Regions from separate parts of the Homo sapiens genome. Here all the other regions are linked to region 1. The links come from fine-mapping of genetic effects on gene expression. A gene starts in region 1. Each other region holds a variant in brackets. All regions are shown on one strand. Distances are from middle to middle.

Region 1 (8,110 bases):
CCCCTGCATTAACTAAAAGTTAGAAGTTCCAGTCTCCTGTCTTATATATATTCTCTGGGTTACCTTGAGCATGTCACATCCTTCTCTGATGCAGTTTCCTCATCTACATAACAAGGCAATTTGATTAGAACAGTATTTTTCAAATTATGGCTCAATAATGCATTAGTGGATCTCTAGCGGACTTCTTACCACAGATTTTAGCTTTCAAACTTTAAACACATAATTACATTATTTCTAAGGACCTGCCTACATCTAAAGTTCTCAGATAAGGAAAATAAACTTCACAGGTCATTAAAAAAAAAACAGATTTTTCATTTATTTTAGATTTTGGAGGAATGAATATTTCTTAATGGCGTTAGAAGAGATCTAATCCTTTTTTTTTTAACAAATGAAATATACAGATCTTTCATAATCATCCATTTATCAAAAATGTTGACTTTTATGTACCATTTTAGAGATAAGCAAACTGAACTAAACTCTCGGGCAAATGAATAACTGTAATGGGAAAAAAGAGATGAGTGGGACCCTATGGCATTAAAAAGTTGAGAGACTTATAATAAATTTCAGTGTATGAACTTTATTTGGATCATTAAATCTACTGTAAAAATGAAACAATCAAGACTATTGAACACTGACTGGATATTAAATAATATCAAGTAAGTACTGTTTATTTTAGGTGTGATAATGATATTTAATAATATTAATTAATTCTGTTAAGTTTTTAGGTGTGATAATGGTATTTTACAATATTAAGGAATTAATATTAAGGCTGTTGTTATGGCAATGGCATTACAGTTATATGTATAAATATATATTTATTTTAGAGGTCAGTGTTAAAATAGTTACAGATAAAATGACATCTGAAATTGTTTTAACATAATTACAGGGGTGAAAGGAATGGGTGGGCATATATATGAAGTAAGACTGATGAAGAACTGATTGTTTCAACTGGTTGATGGGTATATCAGAATTCATTAAACTATTTTCTCTACTTTTGCATACTTAAATTTCTTTATAATAGAAGTTTTTTAAAAAGAAGGACAAATAGGCCGGGCATGGTGGCTCATGCCTGTAAATCCCAGCACTTTGAGAGGCCGAGGCGGGCGGATCGCCTGAGGTTGGGAGTTCGAGACCAGCCTGACCAACATGGAGAAAACCCGTCTCTACTAAAAACACAAAATTAGCCAGGCATGGCGGCACATGTCTGCAATCCCAGCTACTCAGGAAGGCTGAGGCAGGCGAAACGCTTGAACCTGGGAAGCAGAGGTTGCGGTGAGCCGAGACCGTGCCATTGCACTCCAGCCTGGGCAACAAGAGCAAAACTCCGTCTCAAAAAAAAAAAAAAAGAAAAGAAAAGAAAGAAAAAGAAAAGAAAACTAAGGTAGAAAAAGAAAGAAAACTTTTTGCCTCAGATTTTTATTAGCCAGACCCCACACCAAATTTGAGAATTTTGAATTTTTATTCTACATCTTTCAATTATGCTAGAGCCCCTTTCTTTTCTATTTTCTAAGCTTTGCTCTAACTAGAAGCCAAAGATCCTCCTGAGCTCAAAATAAAAAGCCATTTACAATAAAGATTATAAGAGAGAAGAAACCATACCACAAAGAGTAGGAAGTTGCCCTCAGAAGCACCAGCTAACCAAAGTTATCAAAACCCTTCTTTCTGGGTCATGAGTTATAGGCTTTTCTCTTCCTGTTTCATATGAGTGTGCATATCACCAACACTGTGAGGTTATTATGCCTTTTGCCAGATTTTGTAATTTGAAGATGACTAATTTCAGTATGACAAATATGGGATTCCTGGAGAGTGGGGGCGGGGGAAGTGGGGACTAGACTGAAGACTCCATAATTCTTCTCTGTAGTCTTTTACTGTGGAGATGAAATAATATCAATATTAACATGAAAGGAGTAAAGTGAGGTCTCTTGGGAGTCTCTGAGGGTTGCATGGATTTCATTCGGAGGCAGAATCTGCTCCTGGTTCCTCTTTATCTATCATGCCTAATGCCTACGTAATGAGGGTTTAGGTAAAACCTTCTGGGTGTATACAAGCTGCTAGCCTCTGAGGCACCACTGCAGACAGGAAATATTTGCTCACTTGAGCCAACCTGTCCTCGATGCCATTTCTCTGCCAGCAGGAAGAAAGATCCACACCAAGTCTCAAGGGTAGTTACTGGGCTGATGACAATTTGAAGAAACTGTTGAAGTGTAGCCATCAACAGCCTGTGGAGACGTAGCCAACTGGATAATCTGCACAAATATTAGCTTCCAGGCTACTTGGTACTTTCTGTATTTCCAGACAAGATTTACCTAACATTTAGCCTGCTCAGGAGATGCAAAACAATATAAGTTTCTGTTAAATCTGGGTTACTTCATTGGACAGACACCAGAACCAATAAACTTCTAAAATAGGAGAGCACCTTGTTGCTTAGTTTTGGTGTCAGGTGTTCCCGACAGTGACATTGAAAAAGTTATTTTGTTTTTCTTAGTTTTCTCATCTGAAAAAGAAGTGGATAACACCTATTTCAGAGGGTTGCTGCAGACACTAAAATGATTAACATATGTAAAAATGTCTAGTTTTTGCTTGATTTACTAAATAAGTATTAGTTTCCTTTTGAATTATTTGCCATGAAAGCCTTTCGGTGTCCCCTCCATCCCCCCCAAAAAAAAGAAAGAGAAAAAGAAAAAAGGCCCTAGCACTACTAGAACTCAAGCAGAAATTCACATTCTCCCAGCACTCACGTAGGATAAGAAATAGAATTCTACCCCAAGTCCAAAAAAGAGTCTGGCCCAATATCAAAATAGACTTTACCTCCAAAGCAGTTTGATATTTATTAAACACTACCTTTTTCTCTTCATTAACATCTCTTGCCTCCTGGTAATTTGCCCTTTACTTTTCCTCTGTTTCTCCAGCTTTGAAATCACACGCCATTTTTTTTAAGACAATGTAACAATGTGCAAGATATTTTTTGTTGTTGTTTTTTGCACTTTTGACATACCCTATCCCCAAACACACCCCAAACCAGGACACTGTGGAATTAATACAGTTTGGAAATTGGGTATAGTTTAGTGACTCAGTGTTAGTTAAGATGCTGGCAACAGATGTTGGCAAAGGCTATGGAATGAGTCCCAAGAATGACAAACCTTACATTACTCCAAAGGTTTGAAATCCAGGATTTCTCTGGTTAATATGGTTAATAGTTCCACTGCTGGTTTTAATTGTCTTAGAGTGGAAGGAGGTGTCATATTTTCAGGCCCTAGTAATCTCTTCCTTCAGAATTCTTCTGAATAAAAAGCTTAGCAACAAAATCACTAGAGTTAGAGTGCTATGCCTTCTTGATTTAATACTAAAACATGGAACAAATGAAACCACTCTGGCCTTTTTCCAACCTCTACAGATCCCTCATTCTTATACTTCTAGTCCGTCTTTTCTTCCTCATAACACCCCAATTCCCTTTTTGCTCTTTCTTTTCCTCCTCAAATCATATCTCTGCATTGTCTCGCTATGTGGCCACCCTTGATCTCCAGTGACCTCCAAAGGGCAAAACGCCCATAACAAGACAACAACTGCAGTAACAATCCAGTCCAAAAGTATTTGCCAAGAGTTTATTCCGCGGTTAGCACCAAACTCTCCATCTATTTTGCCACTGCAAACAGTGAACCCATAGTTCCCCAAAACAATCATAGTTCCTCATGCTTCACTCTTGGCAGGGCTGAGGACAGGAAAGAAGTGAAAATAAAATCTTCCATTACTACCCTCAGTCTAGCCAGAAGTATACCCCACCACACAAGGAGATGGCAGCCAAGTCTTCACTCCCTCAGAGTTTCTCCTCAGGCTCCTCACTCACCTAACTCTTCCATTGTCCTACATCCAAGATGCTCTTGTCTCACAGGCCGTGAGGAACAGCTTTGGCATGTGCTGAAGAAGAGGACCGCAAAGGAACTGGATGAGACAGCATAAGGCAGCCTCTATAAACCTTTTTGGTTCCTGTATTTGCTTAGCACTTCCTCTCTTTTGATTTGGTGAGCTTTTTTTTTTTTTTCATAGGTTACACAGTTTTAAAAATGTGACTGACATAGAAAGGTAGATAGTAAGATTTGCATTATGGCAGTGCATTGGCCAGGGTGATAAAGATTCAAAATTAATTTTGCAAAATTTGAGGACCTACTCTGTGCCAGGATTCATCTTGGATTCATGGGAATGGCAGACTTATACTTGCGTTTTTTCCAAGTGTAGGTACCCCACTCTGAGCATCTTTCTTTTTTCTTTTTTTTTTTTCTGTGAAGCTGGGAGACACAGAGGCATAGTCTCCTTCTTAAAATTTGCATCAGAGTTGACCAGCATCCATTTCATTTTGTTGTCTTATTTATTCAGAAATTATGGTTATCTGCTTTCCTGCATGGAACGTAAATCCTTAAAAGTAGGGCAGAAGTGGATTCATGCTTGGATTCTCAGGGCCTGGTTTACTCAGTGGTCCCAAAAGCAAACATCTATAGGGTGGTCACAAAGAAGGAAGCCAGGTTTGACACCAGATGTTAAACTGTGTGCATCTCAATTAAGCATAATCCCTGCCTAGATACACTGCCTTATAGCAATTTCTTTGGAAAGTAACACTGAGGTTAACTCTTCACCTTTTTTACCACTGTGATTTATTCACCTTGAATTAAACATTTACAAAAGGCCTACTATAAAAAAGCAATACGTAAGGAACTATAATTATGGCCCTGTGAAATAGATTTTTTCCCCCTTTTTACCAATGGTGAAATAGGTTCATGTAATAGCAACTTGCTAAGATAATTAATTGGTAGCTTTGCTACTTACTATAATTGCAAAGTCTGGGATCTTTCCTCTACAACACCGTAGCCTTCTTTACTTTTTTTAAGACAAGCTCTCTGTCACCCAGGCTGGCGTGCAAAGGTACTATCATAGTTCAGTGTAACCTCCAACTCGAACTCCTGAACTCAAGCGATTTGCCCTTCTCAGCTTCTGGAGTAGCTGGGACCAGAGGTGCATCCCATCACGCCACCAGGTTAGCTTAAAAGCTTTATTTTTATTTTTTATGTAGAGGGTGGTCTCCCTATGTTGCCCAGGCTGGTCTGGAAGTTCTGGGCTCAAGGGATCCTCCCACTTTGGCATCCAAAAGCGCTGGGATTCCGGGGGTGAGCTACCACATCCAGCCCACAGTGGCTTTTTTTTTTTAGGGAATAATTCATTCTCCATTCCACTGTCTGTACATTTTTTTTTGAAAGGAGATTCCTCCTCTGTATTACTTTGAGCATCCATTGGATGTCAGCACTGTTCCTTCCAAAAGTCTGCTCACTACAAACTCAATCTTAAAAAATTTCCATTGACACTATGCCAATCGATTATTACAACTGAAAATGACATTAGCCCTATGAAAATGGAAAATACTCAGTAGAGAATATAAAACATTTGTCTAATATGAAGTGGTATCTGAGTCAAAGTACTGGAAGGAAAAATGTACTTCAGCACTTGTCTACAGTTTAACTGAATGATTAATGTGAAATTTAAAATTGGATCCCCAGATCTTGTTTCCAGCTTCTTTCTTTTGGGACTTTTAGCCCTGGATGCCTTATTTTCCAGGGGTAAAGGATGTTCTTGCAAATCGTTCCTTGATTGTAATGGATGAAAAGAAAAAAGAAATGGGAGAGGCCCACTGCATCACCAACTGCAACGGAAATTCCCTTTGATGAATCAGGAAGACAAATTAATGTCATACGCTAGCGTGCAGAAAAGTAACCTCTGATAAAGTTGCTATTGTATAAACCGCAGAAGCAGATGGCTTCCGGCCGCAGAGCTTAAGAGACCCTTCAGCTTCTCGGTGTAGGTCACCAGTCATGTCACGCTCACAACCCTTTCGCCTCCCTCTAGGTCAGGCACCGCATCCAAGTTAAGCAACCGACGCCGGCTCCTTGGTGTCCCAACAAGGTCTAGTAGAAAAGCAACTTTATAATTCGTTTCACAGATTTGATTAAGAGCCAACTGAGTAGTGGGCCTTGTGCTAGGGCTCCGAGGGCCCAAGGACCCCATGGAACCAGATTTAGTCGCTGACCTCTAGGAGCTCACAGGTGAGTGACTCACACACCGGAAGACGAGATCAATAATGTAGACATGAACGCTGGCTAGCCAGTCCCAGAGGAGGTGTCATCTGACCAAACCAAGGCAAGTCTGGGCAGTTACGCAGACACCCCGAGAAAGGTACGCCAACGCCCAGATAAAAAGTAAGAAAAAGTAGGAAAAACCCTCCCATCAGACCAGCAATTGGCTCGACGCTTGAGCCCGGATGTACGGCACGCGTCGCGACCTAACCCGGAAACACTGCCTCCCGAAAAAAAGGTAAACTCTAGACTGCGGAAAGTAAACTACCTTTCCCGTCGTGACTCAGTTAGAACCTCCCGGCATCCTCTCCACCTCTGGTTTCCCATCTATTTTTCCTAAAGCCTAGGCGAAATAAGACTTCATCTCCCAGAATGCCCTTGGTTAAGTTAACGGTGCGCATGCGCCAAGAGGCGGGCCCTCGTTGCCCCCACAACCCCGCCTCCGTTTTGCCGCCGCCATTTTTTCAGAGACTTTCATCCGGCAACCGACGGGGCTTTTTTTCTTAAAGGAGAAGCGACAGCTCAAAATACTACCCCCTTCTCCGCGCAAGATCTGGCGGCGCTGGGGACAGAAAGGCCAAAGACAGGAAAGTGGGGTAGGGTGGAGGCGGAAGAACGCCCAGGCTACTTCTGCGGCCTAAAGAAGAATAGAAAGAGCCCTTGTGGTATCAGTGGCTCCTCAGGGAGGCAGGTGCGCGCGCAGCCAGTCTAGGGTTTGCGTGAGGCGGGGAAAGAGGTGCGATTTCTTCTCACCCGCCTCCCTCGCGAGACCTGCCCCTCGCACTGCCCCTAGCGCGCGTTGAAGTCTGGAGGGGGGAAAAAGGTCACTTTGGGATTGTCGCGAGACACAGCCGTTTAACGGTGAGAACGGGTGCGCGGGGAAGGAAACCTCGCGCGCTCCCCTTTTAGCCGTTTCCTGATTGGCTGAAGGAAGGGGTGGGGGAGGGAACCTGGGGCGCCGCTGCGTGTAAGACTGCGAGGGGCGGGGTGAGGAGGCTTGTCCTCTTTTCCGATTGGCCCGCTGAGCGTCTGTGGCGCGCGCGCGCGCGCCGCCAGCGGTAGCGGACCTTGAGTGGCAGGGGGTGGGGGGGGCGCCCTCGGAGCCGGGCGGAGGGGAGGGGGGAAAGAGGAGCGCAGGGTGAGAGTGAGCCGCAGGCTTCGGGAGGCGAGGGGGCGGGGGGAGCAGCGCCGAGGCCGCCGCCTCCGCCTCCGCCGCCTAGGACTAGGGGGTGGGGGACGGACAAGCCCCGATGCCGGGGGAGACGGAAGAGCCGAGACCCCCGGAGCAGCAGGACCAGGAAGGGGGAGAGGCGGCCAAGGCGGCTCCGGAGGAGCCCCAACAACGGCCCCCTGAGGCGGTCGCGGCGGCGCCTGCAGGGACCACTAGCAGCCGCGTGCTGAGGGGAGGTCGGGACCGAGGCCGGGCCGCTGCGGCCGCCGCCGCCGCAGCTGTGTCCCGCCGGAGGAAGGCCGAGTATCCCCGCCGGCGGAGGAGCAGCCCCAGCGCCAGGCCTCCCGACGTCCCCGGGCAGCAGCCCCAGGCCGCGAAGTCCCCGTCTCCAGTTCAGGGCAAGAAGAGTCCGCGACTCCTGTGAGTAACAGTCTTTCAGGCGGTGGGAAAGACCCCCCTCTGTCCGTACGCAACCCTCTCGGCTCCCGTAGCGCCTACTCCACGTGACATCCTGCCTGGTCTGCCCCCTGCCGGCTCCGCACGCCAGATGTCACACCGTTTCCCCGGGAGCCTTCGTGCCTCCTCTCTGCGCCACCCTCATCTCGCTCCTGTACCTTCGCTTGTCGGGCCGTTTCCCCACTCCCCGAAATCATCTTTTGATACACCCCTGCACTCGCTAGTGATCCACCTCCTCCCTGACACCCGCAGGCTCATCCCTCTTTCTGGCATCCGCACCCCCTTTGTCACCCTATCCCTTTCCTTTAGGCGGCTCTCCAGTATTACATCACATGCCCTTTAGGGAATACACAGCCCGATCATAGCC
Region 2 (8,110 bases), 120 kb before region 1:
AAAGCATCCAAGAAGTCTGAGATTATGTTAAACGACCAAACATAAGAATAATTGGTGTTCATTAGGAGGAAGAGAATTCTAAAAGCTTGGAAAACATATTTGGGGGAATAATTGAGGAAAAATTCCCTGGCCTTGCTAGAGACCTAGACATCCAAATACAAGAAACACAGAGAACACCTGGGAAATTCATCTCAAAAAGATCATCAGCTAGGTACATTGTCATCAGGTTATCCAAAGTTAAGATGAAGGAAAGAATCTGAAGAGCTGTGAGACAGAAACATCAGGTAACGTATAAAGGAAAACCCATCAGATTAACAGCAAATTTCTCAGCAGAAACCCTACAAGCTAGAAGGGATTGGGGCCCTGTCTTCAGCCTCCTCAAACACAATTATCAGCCAAGAATTTTGTATCCAGTGAAACTAAGCATCATATATGAAGGAAAGATACAGTCTTTTTCAAACAAATGATGAGAGAATTCACTATTACCAAACCACCACTAAAAGAACCGCCAAAAGGAGATCTAAATCTTGAAACAAATCCTGGAAACACATGAAAATAGCATAAATCACACAGAACCTATAAAACAAAAATACAAGTGAAAAAGCAAAAACAAAAAACAAAGCACACAGGCAACAAAGAGCACGATTAATGCAATGATACCTCACATTTCAATACTAACATTGAACAGAACCACAGAATGGATAAGAACTCCCTGATCAACTATCTGCTGCCTTCAGGAGACCAAGCTAACACATAAGGACTCACATAAACTTACATAACTCACATAAACTTAAAGTAAAGGGGTGGAAAAAGGCATTTCATGCAAATGGACACCAAAAGAATCAATATTGTGAAAATGACCATTCTGCCAAAAAAATCTACAAATTCAATGCAATCCCATAAAAATACCACCATCATTCTTCACAGAATTAGAAAAAAAAAATTCTAAAATTCATATGGATCCAAAACAGTGCCTGCATAACCAAAGCAAGACTAAGCAAAAAGAACAAATCTGGAGGCATACCTGATTTCAAACTATACTATAAGGCCATAGTCAAAAAACAGCATGGTACTGGTATAAAAACAGGCACATAGACCAATGGAACAGAATAGAGAACCCAGAAATAAACCCAAATACTTACAGCCAACTAATTTTCAACAAAGCAAACAAAAACATAAAGTGGGGAAAGGACACTCTTTTCAACAAGTGGTGTTGGGATAACTGGCTAGCCACATGTATGAGAATGAAACTGGATCCTCATCTCTCACCTTATACAAAATTCAACTCAAGATGGATTAAAGACTTAAGCCTAATACCTGAAACTTTTTACTTAGGAATATACCTAACCAAGGAGGTGAAAGACCTCTACAAGGAAAACTACAAATCACTGCCGAAGGAAATTATAGACAACACAAACAAATGAAAACACATCCCACACTCATGGATAGGAAGAATCATATTGTGAAAATGATCATACTGCCAAAAGCAATCTAAAATCAATGCAATTTCCAATAAAATACCACCACCATTCTTCACAGAATTAGGAAAAGCAATTCTAAAATTCATATGGAACCAAAAAAGAGCCTGCATAACCAAAGCAAGACTAAGCAAAAAGAACAAATCTGGAGACATCACATTACCTGATTTCAAACTATACTGTAAGACCATAGTCACCAAAACAGCATGGTACTGGCATAAAAATAAGCACATTGACCACCTTATACAAAAATCAGCCCAAGATGGATTAAGAATTTAAATCTAAGACCTGAAACTATAAAAATTCTAGAAGATAACATTGGAAAAACCCTCCTGGACATTGGCTTAGGCAAGGATTTCATGGCCAAGAACCCAAAAGCGAATGCAGTAAAAACAAAGATAAATAGCTGGGAACTAATTAAAGAGCTTTTGCCTGGCAAAAGGAATAGTAAGCAGAGTAAACAGACAACCCACAGAGCGGGAGAAAATCTTCACAATCTATACATCTGACAAACGACTAACATCTAGAATCTACAACAAATTCAAACAAATCAGTAAGAAAAAAACAAACAATCCCATGAAAAAGCGGGCTAAGGAAGTAAATAGACAATTCTCAAAAATAGATATACAAATGGCCAACAGATGAAAACATGCTCAACATCAATAATAATCAGAGAAATGCAAATCAAAACCACAATGCGACTCCACCTTACTCCTGCGAGAATGGCAATAATCAAAAATAAAGAAACAGTAGGTGTTAATGTGGATGTGGTTTGGTGATCAGGGAACACTTCTACACTGCTGGTGTGAATGTAAACTAGTACAGCCACTATGGAAAACTGTGTGGAGATTCCTTAAAGAACTAAAAGTAGAATTACCATTTGATTTAGCAATCCCACTACTGGGTATCTACCCAGAGGAAAAGGAGTCATCATTCAAAAAAGATACTTGCACACGCACGTTTATTACAGCACAATTCACAATTGCAAAATTGTGAAACCAACCCAAATGTGACTGAGTTTGAGACCAGATTGGGCAACATAGCAAGACCCCTTCTGTACACCAATCAACAAGTGGATGAAGTAACTGTAGTATAATCCCAGCACTTTGGGAGGCTGAGAAGGGAGGATCACCTAAGGTCAGGAGTTCAAAACAAGCCTGGCCAACATGGTGAAACCCCATCTTTACTAAAAATGCAAAAATTAGCCAGATGTGCTGCCTGTAATCCCAGCTACTCAGGAGGCTGAGGCCAGAGAATCACTTAAAGCTGGGAGGCAGAGGTTGCAGTGAACTGATATTGCACCATTACACTCCAGCCTGGGCAACAAGAGTGGAATACCCTCTGAAAAAAAAAGAAAAAGAAACTGTAGTATATACATATATATATGCAATGGAATACTACCAAACCATAAAAAGGAATGCATGAAAAGCATTTGCAGAGACTTGGATGAGATTGGAGACTATTATTCTAAGTGAAGTAACTCAGGAATGGAAAACCAAACATTGTATGTTCTCACTGATATATGGGAGCTAAGCTATGAGCACATAAAGGTGTAAGAAGCCATCCCATTACTGGGTATATACCCAAAGGCTTATAAAACATGCTGCTATAAAGACACATGCATACGTATGTTTATTGTGGCACTATTCACAATAGCAAAGACTTGGAACCAACCCAAATGTCCAACAATGATAGATTGGATTAAGAAAATGTGGCACATATACACCACGGAATACTATGCAGCCATAAAAAATGATGAGTTCATGTCCTTTGTAGGGACATGGATGAAGCTGGAAACCATCATTCTCAGCAAACGATCACAAGGACAAAAAACCAAACACTGCATGTTCTCACTCATAGGTGGGAATTGAACAATAAGAATGCTTGGACACAGTCAGGGGAACATCACACACCGGGGCCTGTTGTGGGGTGGGGGGAGTGGGGAGGGATAGCATTAGGAGATTTACCTAATGTTAAATGACGAGTTAATGGGTGCAGCACACCAACATGGCACATGTATACATATGTAACAAACCTGTACATTGTGCACATGTACCCTAAAACTTAAAGTATATATTAAAAAAAAAAGGTAGATACTAGTATGAGTTCCGTTTTATAGATATGGAAATAGAGGCTTCTGTGAGTAATATAACTTGCCTAAGGTGCTTAGCCTGGAAGACACATAATAAAGACAACAATAATAATAATAGCTATGCTTTATTCTACACTAACTGTGTGCCATAGACATGCTAAATATTTTACTTGTATTAAATCATGGGCTTCTCATTTTTTCAACTGAGGAAACTGTGTCTGAGAAAGATGAAATAACTTGCTGTGGCTATTCAATCATTATAGAACAGAGCAGAAATATAACTCCAGGTCTCTCTGAGTCACAGCTTTTGAGGTTAACCACGGCAATTTTACCATATAGCAGCCCCTTAATACATTTTGTTAAATCAAATTGATGCTCTAGAGAATTTTTCATTCAAACACATTAGATTTCTTCTGGAAAACATAGGTTTTACATCCTATGCACAGTGGATTTGATTTGCTTTGTAGTTTTTTCATGGAGAAGGACCTAAAAGAGAGAACAGAGAGGAAGACTCGAGGGTTGTAGTACCCAACCTCAGTCATGCAGCCCTTATAATGAAGGCCAGCTTGCATCTCCTTGATGTGGGAACCAGAATCCACAACATCCCTTGCAGGCTCTCGAGCTGCTACACTCCATAGCCACATTTATGAAGATGGATGAAAAGCACCTCTTTTACAGGCTTCACTGCCTAAGCAGTGGTAGTAATATAAACACCCAGTAA[G/A]AGGGGGTTGATTAAGTATGATCTGTCAACTTGATGCACCATCACGACTCTAGGAAAACAGTAATTATAAAGACTAGGGAGAAACATGCAAGAATGCTTCAAATGTTTACCGTATGATGTTAACTAAAAAAAGTACAGTGTAATGTGATTGCACCTATTTAAACTATAAATATATATGAAAATGTAAACCAAAAGTAAATAAAACAGAAATTAAACATTTGCATTAAGATGAAAAAAAAAAGAATGATACAATCAACTTTGGGGACTTGTGGGGAAGAGTGGGAGAGAAGCAAGGGATAAAAGGCTAAAAATACGGTGCAGCGTATACTGCTCGTTGATGGGTGCACCAAAATCTCACAAATCACCACTAAAGAACTTACTCATGGTAACCAAATGCCACCTGTACCCCTATAACTTATGGAAAACAAATAAATAAATAAATACACAAGCCTATGAAATTTATGAGACAGCATCAAGATAGTTAACTTTAGCATTAAAAACCTTAATGAATAAGAAGAAAGGGAAAGGGAACAGAAACCTAAAGTTAAAATGGCAGAAAACTTATCAAATCTAGGGAAAGATATAAATATCCAAGCATAGAAAAGCCAATGGTCTTCAATTAGATTCAACCCAAAGAAAACCACAAGAAGACATACTATAAGCAAATAGTCAAAAAATAAAGAAAAGAGAACTTTGAAAGCAGCAAAGAAAAAAATATATATACTCACATGGAAGGGAACCCCCCCAAAAGCTATCAGTGTATTTATCAGAATAAACTGCAGGCTAGGAGAGAGCAGATAATATATTCAAAGTAGTGAAAGAACAAAAACCTGCCAATGAAGAATATTCTGCCTGGCAAAGTTGTCCTTTAGAAATGAAGGAGATAACTTTCCCAAACAAACAAAAATTAAGGGAGTTCATAAATACTAGACCTGTCTTACATAAAATGATAAAGGGAGTTCTTCAAGCTGAAATAAAAGGATCCTAATTAGTAGCATAAAAGCATATGAAAGTAAAAACTCATGGTAAAAGTAAGTACAACATCATATTGTAATGATGATGTGGACATCAATTATATCTCTAGTATAAAAGTTAAGACACAAAACTATATCAATAACTATAGCTACGATAATTTATAAAAAGATACACAATATAAAAAGAAATAAATTATGACATAAACCTAAAATGTGGAGGGGGGGGGATAAAAGTGTAGTATTTTTTTTTTTTTTTTTTTTTTTTTTTGAGACGGAGTCTCGCTCTGTCACCCAGGCCGGACTGCGGACTGCAGTGGCGCAATCTCGGCTCACTGCAAGCTCCGCTTCCCGGGTTCACGCCATTCTCCTGCCTCAGCCTCCCGAGTAGCTGGGACTACAGGCGCCCGCCACCGCGCCCGGCTAATTTTTTGTATTTTTAGTAGAGACGGGGTTTCACCTTGTTAGCCAGGATGGTCTCGATCTCCTGACCTCATGATCCACCCGCCTCGGCCTCCCAAAGTGCTGGGATTACAGGCGTGAGCCACCGCGCCCGGCCAAAAGTGTAGTATTTTTATATGCAATCAAAGTTAAGTTGTTATCTGCTTAAAATAAACTGATATCATTGTTGGACATTTGGGTTGGTTCCAAGTCTTTGCTATTGTGAATAGTGCCGCAATAAACATACGTGTGCATGTGTCTTTATAGCAGCATGATTTATAGTCCTTCGGGTATATACCCAGTAATGGGATGGCTGGGTCAAATGGTATTTCAAGTTCTAGATCCCTGAGGAATTGCCACACTGACTTCCACAATGGTTGAACTAGTTTACAGTCCCACCAACAGTGTAAAAGTGTTCCTATTTCTCCACATCCTCTCCAGCACCTGTTGTTTCCTGACTTTTTAATGATTGCCATTCTAAATGGTGTGAGATGGTATCTCATTGTGGTTTTGATTTGCATTTCTCTGATGGCCAGTGATGGTGAGCATTTTTTCACGTGTTATCTGGCTGCATAAATGTCTTCTTTTGAGAAGTGTCTGTTCATATCCTTTGCCCACTTTTTGATGGGGTTGTTGGTTTTTTCTTGTAAATTTGTTTGAGTTCATTGTAGATTCTGGATATTAGCCCTTTGTCAGATGAGTAGGTTGTGAAAATTTTCTCCCATTTTGTAGGTTGCCTGTTCACTCTGATGGTAGTTTCTTTTGCTGTGCAGAAGCTCTTTAGTTTAATTAGATCCCATTTATCAATTTTGGCTTTTGTTGCCATTGCTTTTGGTGTTTTAGACATGAAGTCCTTGCCCATGTCTATGTCTTGAATGGTAATGCCTAGGTTTTCTTCTAGGGTTTTTATGGTTTTAGGTCTAACGTTTAAGTCTTGAATCCATCTTGAATTAATTTTTGTATAAGGTGTAAGGAAGGGATCCAGTTTTGGCTTTCTACATATGGCTAGCCAGTTTTCCCAGCACCATTTATTAAATAGGGAATCATTTCCCCATTGCTTGTTTTGGGGACTGTTGTGGGGTGGGGGGAGGGGGGAGGGATAGCATTAGGAGATATACCTAATGCTAAATGACGAGTTAATGGGTGCAGCACACCAGCATGGCACATGTATACATATGTAACTAACCTGCACATTGTGCACATGTACCCTAAAACTTAAAGTATAATAATAATAAAATTAAAACAATAAACTGATATAACTATAAAGTATTTTCAGTAAGCCTCATGGTAATCAAAATCAAACATCTATCATGAATATACAAAACATGAAAAGAAATCAAAGCATACCACTACAGAAAATCAACAAATTGTAAAGAAAAATGGCAATGGAGGAATAAAGGGATCTACAAAACAGCCAGAACATAATTAGCAAAATGACAATAGTAAGTTCTTACTTATTAATAACCATTTTAAATGTAAATAAGTTCTTCTATCAAAGAATTACTAAATGGATAAAAAACAAAAAGACCCAACTAAATGCTGCCAACAGAAACTCACTTAAGCTTTAAGGACATATATAAATTAAGAGCGAAGGGATGAAAAAAGATTTTCCATGCAAATGGAAACCATAAGAGAGAAGAAGTAGCTATACTTATATCACACAAAATAGACTTTAAGTCAAAAACTACAAAAAGGAATGAAGAAGGTTATTATAAAATGATAAAGGGAACAATCCATCAAGAGGCTACTACAATTATAAACATACATGCACCCAACATCAGAACACCGTAATACGTGAAGCAAATAATAGGTGTTTAGGGAAAAACATACAGCAATTGATAATACAACGGACTTCAATACCTCACTTTCAACAATGCATAGATCATTCAGGAATAAAATCAATAAGAAAACATTGGATTGAATTAGGGTTTAGAGTGAATAAAACTAACAGACCTAAAAGGTAATTTCATCCCTGCAGACCTACAGAGCATTTCATCCCACAGCAGCATATGTGGAACATTCTCTATAACAGATTATATATTGAGCCAAAAAACGAGTCTTAAAAATTTAAGAGGATTGCAGTTTTATCAAGTGTCTTTTCCAACTGCAATGGTAATTAGAAAACAATAGGAGAAATTTCAGAAAACTGACAAGTATGTAAAAATCAAGAACACATGCTTGAACAACCAATGGGTCAAACATGAAATCCAAGGGAAATTTTAAAATATCTTGACACAAACAAAAATGAACACACAACATACCAAACATATAGGATGGATGAAAAACCGCTATAAGAGGAAAGTTTTAGTGATAAATGCCACCCATGAAGAAAAGAGAAATATATGAAATAAACAACCTAAGTATACACTTTAGTAAACTAGAAAAAAAAATGAAAGTAAATACAAAG
Region 3 (8,110 bases), 39 kb before region 1:
AATCAGCACTCTGTGTCTGGCTCAGGGATTGTAAATGCACCCATCAGCACTCTGTGTCTAGCTAAAGGTTTGTAAATGCACCAATCAGTGCTCTGTGTCTAGCTAATCTAGTGGGGACTTGGAGAACTTTTGTGTCTAGCTAGAGGATTGTAAATGCACCAATCAGCACTCTGTGTCTAGCTCAGGGATTGTAAATGCACCAGTCAGCACCCTGTCAAGACAGACCAAACAGCTCTCTGTAAAATGGACCAATCAGCTCTCTGTAAAATGCACCAATTAGCAAGATGTGGGTGGGGCCAGATAAGGGAATAAAAGCAGGCTGCCCGAGCCAGCAGTGGCAACCCACTTGGGTCCCCTTCCACACTGTAGAAGTTTTGTTCTTTCACTCTTTGCAATAAATCTTGCTGCTGCTCACTCTTTGGGTCCGCACTGCCTTTATGAGCTGTAACACTCACCGCGAAGGTCTGCAGCTTCACTCCTGAGGCCAGCGAGACCACGAATCCACCAGGAGGAATGAACAACTCCAGATGGGAGGAATGAGCAACTCCAGACGCACCGCCTTAAGAGCTGTAACACTCACCGTGAAGGTCTGCAGCTTCACTCCTGAAGCCAGCGAAACCACAAACCCATCAGAAAGAAGAAACTCCGAACATGTCTGAACATCAGAAGGAACAAACTCCGGACACACCATCTTTAAGAACTGTAACACTCACCGCAAGGGTCCGCGGCTTCATTCTTGAAGTCAGTGAGACCAAGAACCCACCAATTTCGGACACAAAATGAAGGAAAAAATGTTAAGTGCAGCCAAAGAGAAAGGTTGGGTAACCCACAAAGGGAAGCCCATCAGACTAACAGCGGATCTCTTGGCAGAAACTGTACAAGCCAGAAGAGAGTGGGGGCCAATATTCAACATTCTTAAAAGCATTTTCAACCCAGAATTTCATATCCAGCCAAACTAAGCTTCGTAAACAAAAGAGAAATAAAATTATTTACAGACAAGCAAATGCTGAGAGACTTTACTACCACCAGGCCTGCCTTACAAGAGCTCCTGAAGGAAGCACTAAACACAGAAAGGAATAACTGGTACCAGTCACTGCAAAAACATACCAAATTGTAAAGACCATAGATGCTATGAAGAAACTGTTCATAACAGTTCTTCAAAATAACCAGCTAGCATCATAATTACCAGATCAAATTCACACATAACAAGATTAACCTTAAATGTAAATGGACTAAATGTCCCAATTAAGACACACAGACTGGCAAATTGGATAAAGAGGCAAGACTCATTGGTGTGCTGTATTCAGGAGACCCATCTCACATGCAAAGACACACATAGGCTCAAAATAAAGGGATGAAGGAATATTTACCAAGTAAACGGAAAGAAAAAAAAAAGCAGGGGTTGCAATTCTAGTCTCTGATAAAAAAGACTTTAAACCAACAAAGATCAAAAGAGACAAAGATGGGCATTACATAATGGTAAAGGGATTAATGCAACAGGAAGAACTAACTATCCTAATTATATATGCACCCAATACAGGAGCACCCAGATTCATAAAGCAAGTTCTTAGAGACCTACAAAGACTCTTAGACTTCCACACAATAATAGTGGGAGACTTTAACACCCCACTGTCAATATTAGACAGATCAATGAGACAGAAAATTAACAAGGATATTCAGGACTTGAACTCAGCTCTTGGCCAAGCAGACCTGATAGACATCTATACAACTCTCCACCCGAAATCAACAGAATATACATTCTTGTCAGCACCACATCATATTTATTCTAAAATCGACTATGTAATTGTAAGTAAAACACGCCTCAGCAAATGCAAAAGAACAGAAATCATAGCAAACAGTCTCTCAGACCACAGTGCAATCAAATTAGAACTCAGGAGTAAGAAACTCTCTCAAAACCGCACAACTACATGGAAACTGAAAACCTGCTCCTGAACGACTACTGGGTAAATAAAAAAATTAAGGCAGAAAGAAAGAAGTTATTTGAAGCCAATGAAAACAAAGACACAAAGTACCAGAATCTCTGGGACACATTTAAAGCAGTGTGTAGAGGGAAATTTATAGCACTAAATGCCCACAAGAGAAAGCAGGAAAGATCTAAAATCGACACCCTAAAATCACATTAAAAGAACTAGAGAAGCAAGAGCAAACAAATTAAAAAGCTATCAGGAGACAAGAAATAACTAAGATCAGAGCAGAACTGAAGGAGATAGAGAATGAAAAACCCTTCAAACAATCAATGAATCCCGGAGGTGGTTTTTTGAAATGATCAACAAAATAGATAGACTACTAGCCACACTAATAAAGAAAAAAAGAGAGAAGAATCAAATAGACACAAAAAAATGATAAAGGGGTTATCACTACTGATCCCACAGAAATACAAACTACAATCAGAGAATACTGTAAACACCTCTATACAAATAAACTAGAAAATCTAGAAGAAATGGATAAATTCCTGGACACTACACTCTCCCAAGTCTAGACCAGGAAGAAGTCAGATCCCTGGATAGACCAACAACAAGTTCTGAAATTGAGGCAGTAATTAATAGCCTACCGACCAAAAAAAAGTCCGGGACCAGGTGGATTCACAGCAGAATTCTACCAGAGGTACAAAAAGGAGCTGATACCATTGCCTCTGAAATTATTCCAAACAATAGAAAAAGGGGGAATCCTCCCTAACTCATTTTTATGAGGCCAGCATCATGCTAATACCAAAACACGGCAGAGACACAACAAAAAAAGAAAACTTCAGGCCAATATCCCTGATGAACATCAATGTGAAAATCCTCGATAAAATATTGGCAAACTGAATCCAGCAGCATATCAAAAAGCTTATCCGCCACGATCAAGTCAGCTTCATACCTGGGACGCAAGGCTGGTTCAACATACACAAATCAATAAACATAATCCATCTCATAAACAGAAACAATGACAAAAACCATGATTATCTCAATAGATACAGAAAAGGCCTTTGATAAAATTTAACACCCCTTCATGATAAAATCTCTTAATAAACTAGGTATTGATGGAATGTATCTCAAAATAATAAGAGCTATCTATGACAAACCCACAGCCAATATCATATTGAATGGGCAAAACCTGGAAGCATTCCCTTTGAAAACTGGCACAAGACAGGGATGCCGTCTCTCACCACTCATATTCAACATAGTGTTGGAAGTTCTCGCTAGGGCAATCAGGCAACAGAAAGAAATAAAGGGTACTCACATAGGAAAAGAGGAAGTCAAATTGTCTCTGTTTGCAGATGACATGATTGTATATTTAGAAAACCCCATCATCTCA[A/G]CCCAAAATCTCCTAAAGCTGATAAGCAACTTCAGCAAAGTCTCAGGACACAAAATCAATGCGCAAAAATCACAAGCATTCCTATACGCCAATAATAGACAGCGAAATCATGAGTGAAACTCATTCACAATTGCTATACAGAATTAAATACCTTGGAATACAACTTACAAGGGATGTGAAGGACCTATTCAAGGAGAACTACAAACCACTGTTCAAGGAAATAAAACAGGACACAATCAAATGGAAAAATATTCCATGCTTCTGGATAGGAAGAACCAATATCGTGAAAATGGCCATACTGCCCAAAGTAATTTATGCATTCAATGCTATCCCCATCAAGCTACCATTGACTTTCTTCATAGAATTAGAAAAAACTACTTTAAATTTCATATGGAACCAAAATAGAGCCTGCATAGCCAAGACAATCCTAAGCAAAAAGAACAAAGCTGGAGGCATCATGCTACCTGACTTCAAACTATACTACAAGGCTACAGTAACAAAAACAGCATGGTACTGGTACCAAAACAGATATATAGATCAATGGACAGAACAAAGGCCTCAGAAATAACACCACACATCTACAACCATCTGATCTTTGACAAACTTGACAAAAACAAGCAACAGGGAAAGGATTCCCTATTTAATAAATGGTGTTGGGAAAACTGGCTAGCCATATGCAGAAAACTGAAACTGGACCCCTTCCTTACACCTTATACAAAAATTAACTCAACATGGATTAAAGATTTAAACGTAAGACCTAAAACCATAAAATTCCTAGAAGAAAACCTAGGCAATACCATTCAGGACACAGGCATAGACAAAGACTTCATGACTAAAACACCAAAAGCAATGGCTACAAAAGCCAAAATAGACAAATGGGATCTAATTAAATTAAAGAGCTTCTGCACAGCAAAATAAACTATCATCAGAGTGAACAGGCAATCTACAAAATTGGAGAAAATTTTTGCAATCTATCCATCTGACAAAGGGCTAATATCTAGAATCTACAAAGAACTTAAACAAATTTACAAGAAAAAAAAACAACCCCATCAAAAAGTGACTGAAGGATATGAACACACACTTCTCAAAAGAAGACATTTATGTAGCCAATAAACATATGAAAAAAAAAAGCTCATCATCACTGGTCATTAGAGAAATGCAAATCAAAACCATAATGAGATACCATCTCACGCCAGTTAGAAAGGCGATCATTAAAAAGTCAGGAAACAACAGATGCTGGAGAGGATATGGAGAAATAGGAATGCTTTTACACTGTTGGTGGGAGTGTAAATTAGTTCAACCATTGTGGAAGACTATGTGGTGATTCCTCAAGGATCTAGAACCAGGAATACCATTTGACTCAGCAATCCCATTACTGGGTATATACCCAAAGCATTATAAATCATTCTACCATAAAGACACATGCACACATATGCTTATTGCAGTACTATTCACAAAAGCAAAGACTTGGAACCAACCCAAATGCCCATCAATGATAGTCTGGATAAAGAAAATGTGGCACATATACACCATGGAATAAAATACAGCCATAAAAAAGAATGAGTTCATGTCCTTTGCAGGGACATGGATGAAGCTGGAAACCATCATTCTCAGCAAACTAACACAGGAACAGAAAACCAAACACCGCATGTTCTCACTCATAAGTGGGAGTTGAACAATGAGAACACATGGCCACAGGGAGGGGAACATCACACACTGGGGCCTGATGGAGGCAGGGGACTAGGGGAGGGATAGCATTAGGAGAAATACCTAATGTAGATGATGGGTTGATGGGTGCAGCAAACCACCATGGCACGTGTATACCTATGTAACAAACCTGCACATTCTGCACATGTACACCAGAACTTAAAGTATAATAATAATAAAAACGAAATAGTTCATTCAAGTAACTTTAAATGATAGTGTTCAGAGTGTACAGTCCTAATGATGCAATCTAAAGACAAAACAAGCTACAAAGAAATATTTTATTTTATTTTATTATTATTATACTTTAAGTTTTAGGGTACATGTGCACAATGTGCACGTTAGTTACATATGTATACATGTGCCATGCTGGTGTGCTGCACCCATTAACTCGTCATTTAGCATTAGGTATATCTCCTAAAGCTATCCCTCCCCCCTCCCCCCACCCCACAACAGTCCCCAGAGTGTGATGTTCCTCTTCCTGTGTCCATGTGTTCTCACTGTTCAATTCCCACCTATGAGTGAGAACATGTGGCGTTTGGTTTTTTGTCCTTGCGATAGTTTACTGAGAATGATGATTTCCAATTTCATCCATGTCCCTACAAAGGACATGAACTCATCATTTTTTATGGCTGCACAGTATTCCATGGTGTATATGTGCCACATTTTCTTAATCCAGTCTATCACTGATGGACATTTGGGTTGGTTCCAAGTCTTTGCTATTGTGAATAGTGCCGCCATAAACATACGTGTGCATGTGTCTTTATAGCAGCATGATTTATAGTCCTTTGGGTATATACCCAGTAATGGGGTGGCTGGGCCAAATGGTATTTCTAGTTCTAGATCCCTGAGGAATCGCCACACTGACTTCCACAATGGTTGAACTAGTTTACAGTCCCACCAACAGTGTAAAAGTGTTCCTATTTCTCCACATCCTCTCCAGCACCTGTTGTTTCCTGACTTTTTAATGATTGCCATTCTAACTGGTGTGAGATGGTATCTCATTGTGGTTTTGATTTGCATTTCTCTGATGGCCAGTGATGGTGAGCATTTTTTCATGTGTTTTTTGGCTGCATAAATGTCTTCTTTTGAGAAGTGTCTTAAACTGTTTTTATATATACTGGAAATTTGCTGTGAGTAGATTCTGATGCTCTTACCATATACACATGAAAAGGGTTACTGTGAGTGAGGACGGATATGTTAATTTGCCTAACTGTAATAAATATTTCACTGTGTATATCAAAATATCATGTTGTGTACCTTAAAATATACAATAAAATAATACAATATATATACACAATAAAAATAATTTGTTCATTTACAATATTTATATATTTTTTGAACTTATTACAGGTAGATTACATAATAAAGCAAATAATTATATTAATGCCTTTGGAAAGCAAGATTTCCAGCATTAAAAAAGACACAAATAATCAAACAAATCAAACAAAAAACTGTATCATTATACTATATCAGATATATTAGTATGAACTCATGACTTACTTTTCTTTAAAAAAAACAACAACAATGACAGATTCTATCAGGGCGCAGTGGCTCCTGCCTGTAATCCCAGAACTTTGAGAGGCTGAGGCGGGAGGACTGGTTGAAGCCTGGAGTTCGAGACAAGCCCTGGGCAATGTAGTGAGACCCACTCTCTACAAAAAATTTTAAAAAATTAGCCAGACCTGGTGGTACACATCTGTAGTGCCAGCTACTCAGAAGGCTGATGTGGGAGAATCGCTTGAGTCCAGGAGTTCAAGGCTGTAGCAAGCTATGATAGCACCTCTGAACTCTAGCCTGGGAGACAGCATGAGATCCTGTCTCTATAAAATTTAAAAACCTTAAAAAGTAGATCTGAAGCTCTGTCCACTGAAAAACCTAGAAGAAATGACATCCCAGAAATAATGAACACTGCTAATTTTTAAATATCCTCAATGAAGCAGTCTTTTTGGAGAAATGGATGATTCCAAGTATGTGGCAGAGTTGACAAGTTAGGCCTGATATATCTTGCTGTGCCAAGGAAATAGGAAGATTACTGGGATCATATCAGAAAGATACAGTAACCAAATTGAAGGGGCTACCTCTGACCTCAGATAAAAAAATTTGAGCATTAAAAAATACTAATTCAATAGATCAAATTATACCAAGTATATATAACTCCATGAGTTCATAATGATTTTTTAAAAATAAAAATTTATTAGTCTCCACTGGATATTGTTAATGAACCCATTCATTACCCTTATAATTAATTCATTACTCTTATTAATAGAAAGTGTCAAACACTTATCTCACCTTTCCTGTATGAGATATATTCCAAGATAACCCAATAACTGATGATAGAAAGTTTTTGTAGAACTCAGCTAATAAATATGGAAGGAATAATAGAAAACTCAGCATTTTACTACCTATTCCATTGGATTTAGGTAATTGTCATTAATGGGGAACTTTAAAATAGAGGGATCGGGATGACACTGCTTAAATTTAGTGGTCAATGTTAGTATCAATAAAAGTGGTCAACCAGTCATTATACACCTCTTGATGTGATTCAACAAGAAGTATACTGCACCCACCACCTGAAACCTATTCTTGTCATCCAGACCCCCGAAAACTGAACCTAAACCTAGTCATCTCTAGGTCTAAACTAATAGTTTAAGGAAAATATAGGAAATGGGGGCAGGAGTAAAGCAAAAAACAGTATCATGAGAAAGCAGCCAGTCAAATAAAGAATATGGGATATTTTATGGGATATAGGTTCTGGATTCATTAACAAATAAATAGTATAAAAAAGCAGCAAAGAGAGGACTAATAATAGAATTTTTTAAATTTGAGAGACAAAACAGCAAAATGCAATGCACTGACCTTGCTGAGATCCTGATTCAAGCAAACCAAGCCTGTGATATTTTCTTAGAAATCTGAATAGGAATTGTAAATGATAATAAGAAATTCTTAATTTGTTAAGCATAAAGGTAGTTTTTAAAAAGACCTTCTCAGCTAAAAGTGATGCATGCCGAAGTATTTAATGATGAGATTACATGACTTCTAAACTTGCTTCTTAATATTCCAGCAAGAAAAAATGTGGATGGATGGG
Region 4 (8,110 bases), 220 kb before region 1:
TTGAAATTGTGGTGTGAGAGGACTCCAACTCTGTTCTCTTTTTAAAATATTATTCTGGGCTTTTAAATTTCCTTATGAATTTTAGGATAAGTTTACCAATTTCTGCAAATAAGCCAGCTGGGATTTGAGAGGAAGTGTATTTAATCTGAATATCAATTAGGGAATGTGGCCAGCTGTACAATGTTGGTTCATAATCAAGTAATGTTTTCCTTTATTTAGATTTTATTGAACATCTTTCAACTAGGTTTTATAGTTTTAAGAATATAAGCATTGCAGTTCTTTTTGTAATCGTTTTTACTGTGCATCTTATTTTTGATGGTTCTGTAAATGGAATTTTCTTCATTTTATTTTTAGATTACCTATTGCTAGTATATAGAAATACCACTTATTCTGGTATGTTGTTATTGTATCCCTGACACTTTACTGAATTGATTTATTAGTTCTAATAATTTTTAGGGGATTACTTATGATCTTCTGTTTTTTGAGACGGAGTCTCGCTCTGTCACCCAGGCTGGAGTCCAACGGCACGATCTCAGCTCACTGCAACCTCCGCCTCCTGGGTTCAAGCGATTCTCCTGCCTCAGCCTCCCAAGTAGCTGGAACTACAGGCATCCACCACCATGTCTGGCTAATTTTTTTGTATTTTTCGTTGAGACAGGGTTTCATCACGTTGTCTCGCCTGGTTTTGAACTCCTGACCTCAAGTGATCCACCTGCCTTGGCCTCTCAAAGTGCTGGGATTACAGGCATGAGCCACTGGGCCAGGTCATGATTTTATATTTTAAATAGCAAACAGAGATTCTTTTATTTCTTTCTCTCAGTTCAAGATGTCTTTGATAGTCATAGGCTAAGTTTAAAAAAAAAAGAATTATCTCTGCCTTTTAATTCTAATATATTATTATTCTAATATAGTTATTTACCATTTATAAATTGTCATATGAACAAGCTGTACCAAATACCTAAAATTATTAATGCCTGAAATATTAGTTTATTAAGAAACAGTAATGACTCATAGTTGGCTAAAATATGACAAGAGACAACACATATTTCATTAAACTCCATGAGAAATTGTCATCGTATTTTTCTAACTCGTGGATACTTAGAACTGTTTCTCAACTAAAGACAAAAATAATATTAGATGAAATTTTACATTCTATATACCATATAGCATTTTAACATTTGAGTTATTGTATAAAGTAGATCTAAGTGAGATAAAATAACATTGTGATGATTTTGCATCATTAAAAGACTGAATCTAGAGAATATTTTGCCTTCTCAACAACCTTCATGAATGCATTCTTCACGTCTTTGTTCCTCAGGGTATAGACTATAGGACTGAGCATGGGGATGATCATAGTGTAGAACACAGATGCAATTTTGTCTGTGTCCATGGAATGACTGGAACTTGGTCGTATGTACATGATGATGACAGTTATATAAAATAAGAAAATGGCAATGAGGTGAGAACCACAGGTAGATAAAGGCTTCTGGTATCCCTTACCTGTGTGCCTCTTAAGAATGGTGATCAATATGAACAGATAGGAAATCAAGGTAACAAGAAGTGCAAAAAAGACATTAAAACTTGATATAAGAACAAGAATCAACTCACTAATGTGTTTCTCAGAGCAGGTCAGAGTAATGACTGCTGGTTTGTCACAGAAAAAGTGATGAATCACATTGGACATGCAGAAAGAGAGGCGAAATGTATCTCCAATTTGGATAGAAGCATTCAGAAAACCAATGACATAACAGCCTATAGCCAGACAAGCACACACACGTGTTGTCATGGTGGTGGTATAATGTAGGGGGTTACACACTGCTGCGTAGCGGTCATAGGCCATTGAGGACAAGAGGTAATTTTCCACAGTGGCAAAGACTGCACAAAAGAACATCTGAGCAGCACAGGCACTGTAGGAGATGGCTTTGTCTTCTATAAGCAACCCAGTTAAAACCTTTGGAGTGACAGCTGAGGAGTAACCAATGCCTGCAAGAGACAGGTTACTGAGAAAAAAGTACATGGGAGTGTGGAGATGAGAGTCCAGCAGGATTAATATGATCATCCCCAGGTTCCCAGTCAGAGTGATGAGGTAGATGAGGGTAAACATGATAAAGAGGGGAACCTGTAGTTCTGGGGCATTGGTTAGACCAAGCAGGATGAATTCACTCACCTCTGTATTATTCTCCATGGATGTTATTTTAGAATCACAAGATACTCTGTAGCAAGGAGAGATAAAAAAGAAAAACCCTGTGATGAACAAAACAGAGTTGCACAAAACTGAAATGTATGTGTTATTTTATTATAGCAATGATTTGTTTTCTATATTTCCTAGATCAAAATTATGGATATGAAAACACAATTTAGTGGATAACTTATCTATACAGTAATAGACTTTTGAAGAAAAAGGGTCTTCGTGGATCATCTTTCCAGCTTCTTAATTTTGTGTCTGAGTAAATGGAGTCATAGGAAGGGAATAATGAGTTGTCCAATGTCACATGCCTGAAGTGAATCTATCTCCCAAATAATATGTTTTTTGAATCTAACATCTTAAACACACTTATAGTTGTCTCATGCCAGATGCTTTATATGTACATCCTCATAGAATTCTCTCATTAATCCTATTATTTAATTAGTTATTATTGCCAATTTATACATGAAGTATCTTGGTAGAAAAAAAGAGTTTGAATAATTTATTCAAGATTACACAAGCACCAGTAGATAGAACCAAGCTTTAGACACAATCAGGGTGGTTCCCAACCTAAATTAAAAGAATTAAAATTCTTTTAATGAATTTGAATTATTTTAAATGTTAATCTATTTATATGTACTCATTCTATCTATTATACCAAGCATAACATATGAAGTTGCATAGTAGAGCAATGCACAAATAAATGCATACTAGATGAAGTGGAATAAATGCAGCATTAATGTCATGTGCAACCAACAAAGCCAATTCTGCAGAGAAGATATAGCATTGGGTATAAAATCTAGGACTCTAAGAAGAGGTAGATTTGTATTAACTCATAAGCCCTAACATTTACTACTTGGGAGACACTGGTCTTAATCTAACTTCCTTGAATCTCATTTTATCCATTAGTCAAATGAAGATGATATTAGGACTTATGTCAAGAGATTATTTTGAGAGTTAAATGAGATAATGCTCAGCTGTTGGCAAAATGTGGGCACTCAGCACAGTCCTGATGAGTGCTAGCTATAATATTATTATTAGGATGGAATGGTGGTGCATATGTTGGTGTAGAACACATAGAGGTGACACACAGGGCTGAAGGTGTGGGTGGGTTTTCAAGTTGGCAGTTTTACTCTGTCTGATCTGTATTTTCTTACACACTATGTCCAGTCTTTTGTTTCCTTCAGCATTTCTCACTCTATCCATTCTTTGCCAGGTGAATGACTGTGTCAGCCATCTAGCATGAGAACCCAGGGATCTTCAAGTCCTGTTGTGTTTAATTTCTCCCTTTCAAACTACATTTT[A/C]CCTTGTGTTGAAACAATCCCCTTTTATCTTAGACACATTCTTCCTGTCATTACTCTCAACACTTAGCAGGATATCAGATATTGAGGGTTGGAGGTTCGTAGTCTTGGGGGCTGACTGTAGGCTGCAGATGTGTTTATGCACAATCTTTTTATTTGAATTTGAATCTGTCAGAAGGACATTCATTTCCTCATAACCACTATTGATTGTCTATCATTTTTCTCCTGCCCCCAGTACACATCAGTTGACACTTCTAGAATTCAAATTATTTGTTTGCCAAAAAACTACCCACATAATAATATAAGCTACAATTTTTATTGTTTTTCTTTAAAAATTTACTATGTTCTATGACAACTGAAAGGTTCTCACTGTACCTACCTGGATAATCTAGGATAATCCTACCATCTCAACATGTTAATTTAATCACTGTGAAGTTTGTAAAAAAATCACATAAGGCCACATGTTTATGGGTTTCAGAAGTTAAGATATGACCACCTTTGGGGAACATTATTAAGGCTGCCATAATGAGTATGAATATTATATATCATAGGTAAATTATCTCTAGAATCAGAAATGGTTGAGACATCTTCACAGATCACATAGCCAACTTCCTAATTGTATATATGAATCACTAGAGGAGCAGAGAAAGTATTAAATTCTCAAGTTCACATATCTGGAATACATTGATTTTATAAATCAGATCTTCTAAAGTTACTAGCAGCTTAGCCTTTGTACTTATGAACCAGTTTGTTTCATGAATGATAGAGAGATGATAGATTGACAGACATAGATATCAGAGCATGGAGAGAGAGAGAGAGAGAGTATTTATACAGACAGATATATAACCCCATTTGCTGTTAAATATTGGGAGATTAGAGGAGTTTTGTACCTTCCTCATATTCTACACTTAGTAAGATAAATTCAAGATTCAAACCCATGTCTAACCTATTCCAATTTCTGTGCCTTTAATCACTGCAATGTCAGATTTTCTAGATTAGCAAGTAATGAAAAAGTGAGATTGTGAGGAAATGATAGTAAAAATGGAATAGGGATCTTGGTAGTGTCATAATAATCTTTCTGAAGTCTATTGAAGAGTTGTTGCACCCTGTTTGGGGGAGCTATTCCTTCAGCGACAAACCAACACATAATAAACCAGATACATTTACCACCTACTCAATCAGAGCATCATCCAGCCTAGGGTTTTACTACCATCTTAGGGAGAGCAGCACGGCATTTCATAAATATCACTGTATCTGCTGGTTAAGTTTTCTTTTTTTTTTTTAAACAATGAATGCTAGACCCACTTCCATGTTTTAGAAAAAATGTTCAAACAAGTAGATCTGAGCTCAAAAACTCATACAAGATGTAGCTGCCACACTGCTTTTGCATCAATTACATATTTCACCAAAAGTATATATTGAATATAGAGGCTTACCTTGCTCTTTGAAAAGAAGAAAAAGGCAGTTCTCAATTGTGAGTCTGAAATCAGAAATTCATTCTTGGGAGAATGCCTAAATAACATTGGAGAAATTCTCTATCATGTACTTTTCAGAAATGTTCAAGTTTTTTGAGGCATAAAGAGGTGGAGAAAGAATTATTAACATGGAGTGCTAACTCAAACATGTCATTTTTCTATGTTGTATCATTTTTCTGTGTTGTGAAAGTCTGAGTTCAGGTTTTGCATGTACCATGGGTTTTTCTGTGAACTTGAAAAACTTATTTATTTTCTGCTGAGCTCAGTTTCCTCATTTGTGGAATAGAAATGAGAAAATGTTTTCTCCCACAACTTCACACAATTGTATCTATACAGAGAAAATGACAGTGGACCTATACAGACCTTAGTAAGTTGTTATCCCTTCATCATGAACCAATACAATTTTTATCTTGGGAAGTTTTTTTCTGCCTTTGGTTGGAGAATCACTGCAATATTCTCAGTTTCAGGAAAGACCAGATTGTGCACTAAAAGTATTAGCTTTCATTTGGATGAATGAAGATTAAAGTGGCTCTGGTTAGAGTCTTATCCATTTTAAATAACGTCATGTGGAGCCATACTATGATTTCAGATCTTACTGACTGGCAGCCAGGAGAAAAGTGTACATGTATGGAACTCTCTGGGAAACAGCGTCCCTATGAGGGCAATAGCTTTCCTTTATCTCACTTATCTAGGGAAGAGGCAATTACACAGCATCCAGTGATAGAGTTTGTGTTGAGTCACATACATGTTTATTTGTGGTAATTGCTGTCATGCCTTTTTTCTCCCCCAATTTTATTAAGTTGTTATTACATACATGAGCAGTGTGTTGATCTATTTATATTTACTGTATTATTGATGTGTAATACATGTCAAATATTTATTTTGTTTTCTTTTTATTCATTTTTCTACTTTCTATTTTATAACTTGTTATATCTGATAGCAACTGAATTTGTAGATTGATAAACATAATCCCTGTTTTACTTTCTTGTGTTTACAATCAACTGATAAATATAACATAGGTGTCAGAGAAATGAAGATTAGAATATTCCTTAATATTTATATTCAATTCAAAAATTTGATTCAGATAAATAGGTGGATGGCCTTCTTTTCTATCTCAAATTACTATTTCCTAGCAAATATCGTTAGTGTTCTATCCATCCCCTCTTCACTTGTGTTGTCCATGTGCAGGCCAATACTTATTGTGAAATAAAGAATGTGAAATTTGCGTTTTGCAGACTTAGGGCTTAGAATTTGCTGTAAAAGTAGGTTCAGCCCATGTGTGGAACATTTTAATTTCTGTGGTGTGGAACATTTTAATTTCTGTGGTATCAGCAATCAGTACATGATAGATAGAAGTAGAGTGATAAGAACCCAATTCCTACTTTTTCAGGTGGTATAACTTTGAGACATATTTGATAGTTTTCCAGTGGTTCCTGATAGACTAAGGCCCAGTTTTCTTCAGGCATAACCTACTCACTAAAGAAACCCTTTATTCCCCTTCCTGTGTCCAAGTGTTCTCATTGTTCAATTCCCACCTATGAGTGAGAACATGCAGTGTTTGGATTTTTGTCCTTGTGATAGTTTGCTGAGAATGATGGTTTCCAGCTTCATCCATGTCCCTGCAAAGGACATGAACTCATCATTTTTTATGGCTGCATTTTATGGAATACTAAATTATTCCATGGTGTATATGTGCCACATTTTCTTAATCCAGTCTATCATTGATGGACATTTGGGTTGGTTCCAAGTCTTTGCTATTGTGAATAGTGCCGCAATAAACATACGTGTGCATGTGTCTTTATAGCAGCATGATTTATTCTCCTGTGCATATATACCCAGTAATGGGATGGCTGGGTCAAATGCTATTTCTAGTTCTAGATCCCTGAGAAATCACCACACTGACTTCCACAATAGTTGAACTAGTTTACAGTCCCACCAACTGTGTAAAAGTGTTCCTATTTCTCCACATCCTCTCCAGCACCTGTTGTTTCCTGACTTTTTAAATGATCGCCATTCTAACTTGTGTGAGATGGTATCTCATTGTGGTTTTGATTTGCATTTCTCTGATGGCCAGTGATGATGAGCATTTTTTGATGTGTCTTTTGGCTGCATAGGGGCCTGTTGTGGGGGTGGGGGTAGGGATAGCATTAGGAGATATACCTAATGTAAATGACGAGTTAATATATTCAAGATATATAACATTTCCATCACCACAAGGATCCCTCATGCTGACCTTTTATAGCCATGACCCCATTCCTTCTTAAATACTGGAAAAAAATCTGTCCTCCATTTTATAATTTTGTCATTTCACAAATGTTCTATGTATGTGGAATTATGCCTTGGATTTTTTGTGACCGTTTGAGACTGGCTGTTTTTACTCAGCATATTCTTCCCAATATTCATCCAGGTTTTTGAATGTATCAACAGTTTATTCCTTTTTATTGAGAGTAGTATTCAATGTGATGGATGTACTACAAGTTGTTAACCTTTCACCCAAGGAAGGATATCTGAATGGTTTCCAGCATGGTTTCTAATTTTTGACTACTATAAATAAAGGTGCTATAAACATTTACACACAGTTATTTTTGTGAACATAAATAATCATGTTTCTGGGAAAATGCCCAGGAGTTCATTTGCTGGATCTTATGGCAGTTATGTATAAAAAACAAACAAACAAACTAACAAAAACAAACAAAAAAACACTAAACTATTTTCCATAGTCTATCTTATCTATTTTTGGTTTCTGTTCCAGAATTTCTAATTACTTTCTATAATTTCTGTTTCTTTATTAATAGTTCACTATTTCTTGAAATATCTTTTTCCTAGCTTCCTTTAGTTTCTTGTTCAAGATTTCATTTAGCTCTTTGAGCGTATTTAGGATACATGTCTTAAAAGTGCAGAAAAATATAGAATCCTGATGAATGAAGTTTTAATAATTGAAATTAGTGTATAGAAATATTATATTCATGAATTGAGAGACTTTATGTTGACTGCTCTGAAGATTCCTTGCAATCACAATTTAAATCCAAGCAGCCTTTTTAAAAAAATAAATATGAATACACTGATTATAAATTATATGGAATGGCAAAGCTAATAAAGATAATAAAGTTGAAGCATGCACATTACCTGATTTCATGACCTTCTATAAC

The links. PIP is the estimated chance that this variant, and not a neighbour inherited with it, causes the effect.
Region 2: its variant is the best candidate, but not a certain one, in a credible set for the expression of LPXN in whole blood (INTERVAL, PIP 0.85).
Region 3: its variant is the best candidate, but not a certain one, in a credible set for the expression of LPXN in whole blood (TOPMed, PIP 0.69).
Region 4: its variant is the best candidate, but not a certain one, in a credible set for the expression of LPXN in whole blood (TOPMed, PIP 0.72).

Annotation. Positions count from the first base shown.
Region 1 is chr11:58,571,916-58,580,025 of GRCh38, forward strand. LPXN (leupaxin) reads right to left here and starts at 3,941. Exons shown (of 9, transcript NM_004811.3): 1 at 3,845-3,941. The coding sequence starts at 3,857. ZFP91 (ZFP91 zinc finger protein, atypical E3 ubiquitin ligase) reads left to right here and starts at 7,148. Exons shown (of 11, transcript NM_053023.5): 1 at 7,148-7,707. The coding sequence starts at 7,367. ZFP91-CNTF (ZFP91-CNTF readthrough (NMD candidate)) reads left to right here and starts at 7,199. Exons shown (of 13, transcript NR_024091.1): 1 at 7,199-7,707. RefSeq lists enhancers at 3,814-3,873, 3,884-3,933, 5,622-5,671, 5,902-5,981, 6,002-6,521 and 3 more and a silencer at 7,202-7,621.
Region 2 is chr11:58,447,641-58,455,750 of GRCh38, forward strand. No RefSeq gene overlaps it. Among named protein-coding and RNA genes, the nearest start is that of OR5B12, 9.5 kb to the left of the region's middle. The variant G/A (reference allele first, on the strand shown) is at 4,292.
Region 3 is chr11:58,532,464-58,540,573 of GRCh38, forward strand. The region is part of intron 7 of LPXN (leupaxin); the gene reads right to left. Among named protein-coding and RNA genes, the nearest start is that of OR5B21, 28 kb to the left of the region's middle. The variant A/G (reference allele first, on the strand shown) is at 3,319.
Region 4 is chr11:58,356,885-58,364,994 of GRCh38, forward strand. OR5B17 (olfactory receptor family 5 subfamily B member 17) reads right to left here and starts at 2,185. Exons shown (of 1, transcript NM_001005489.2): 1 at 1,240-2,185. The coding sequence starts at 2,185. The coding sequence ends at 1,241. The variant A/C (reference allele first, on the strand shown) is at 3,490.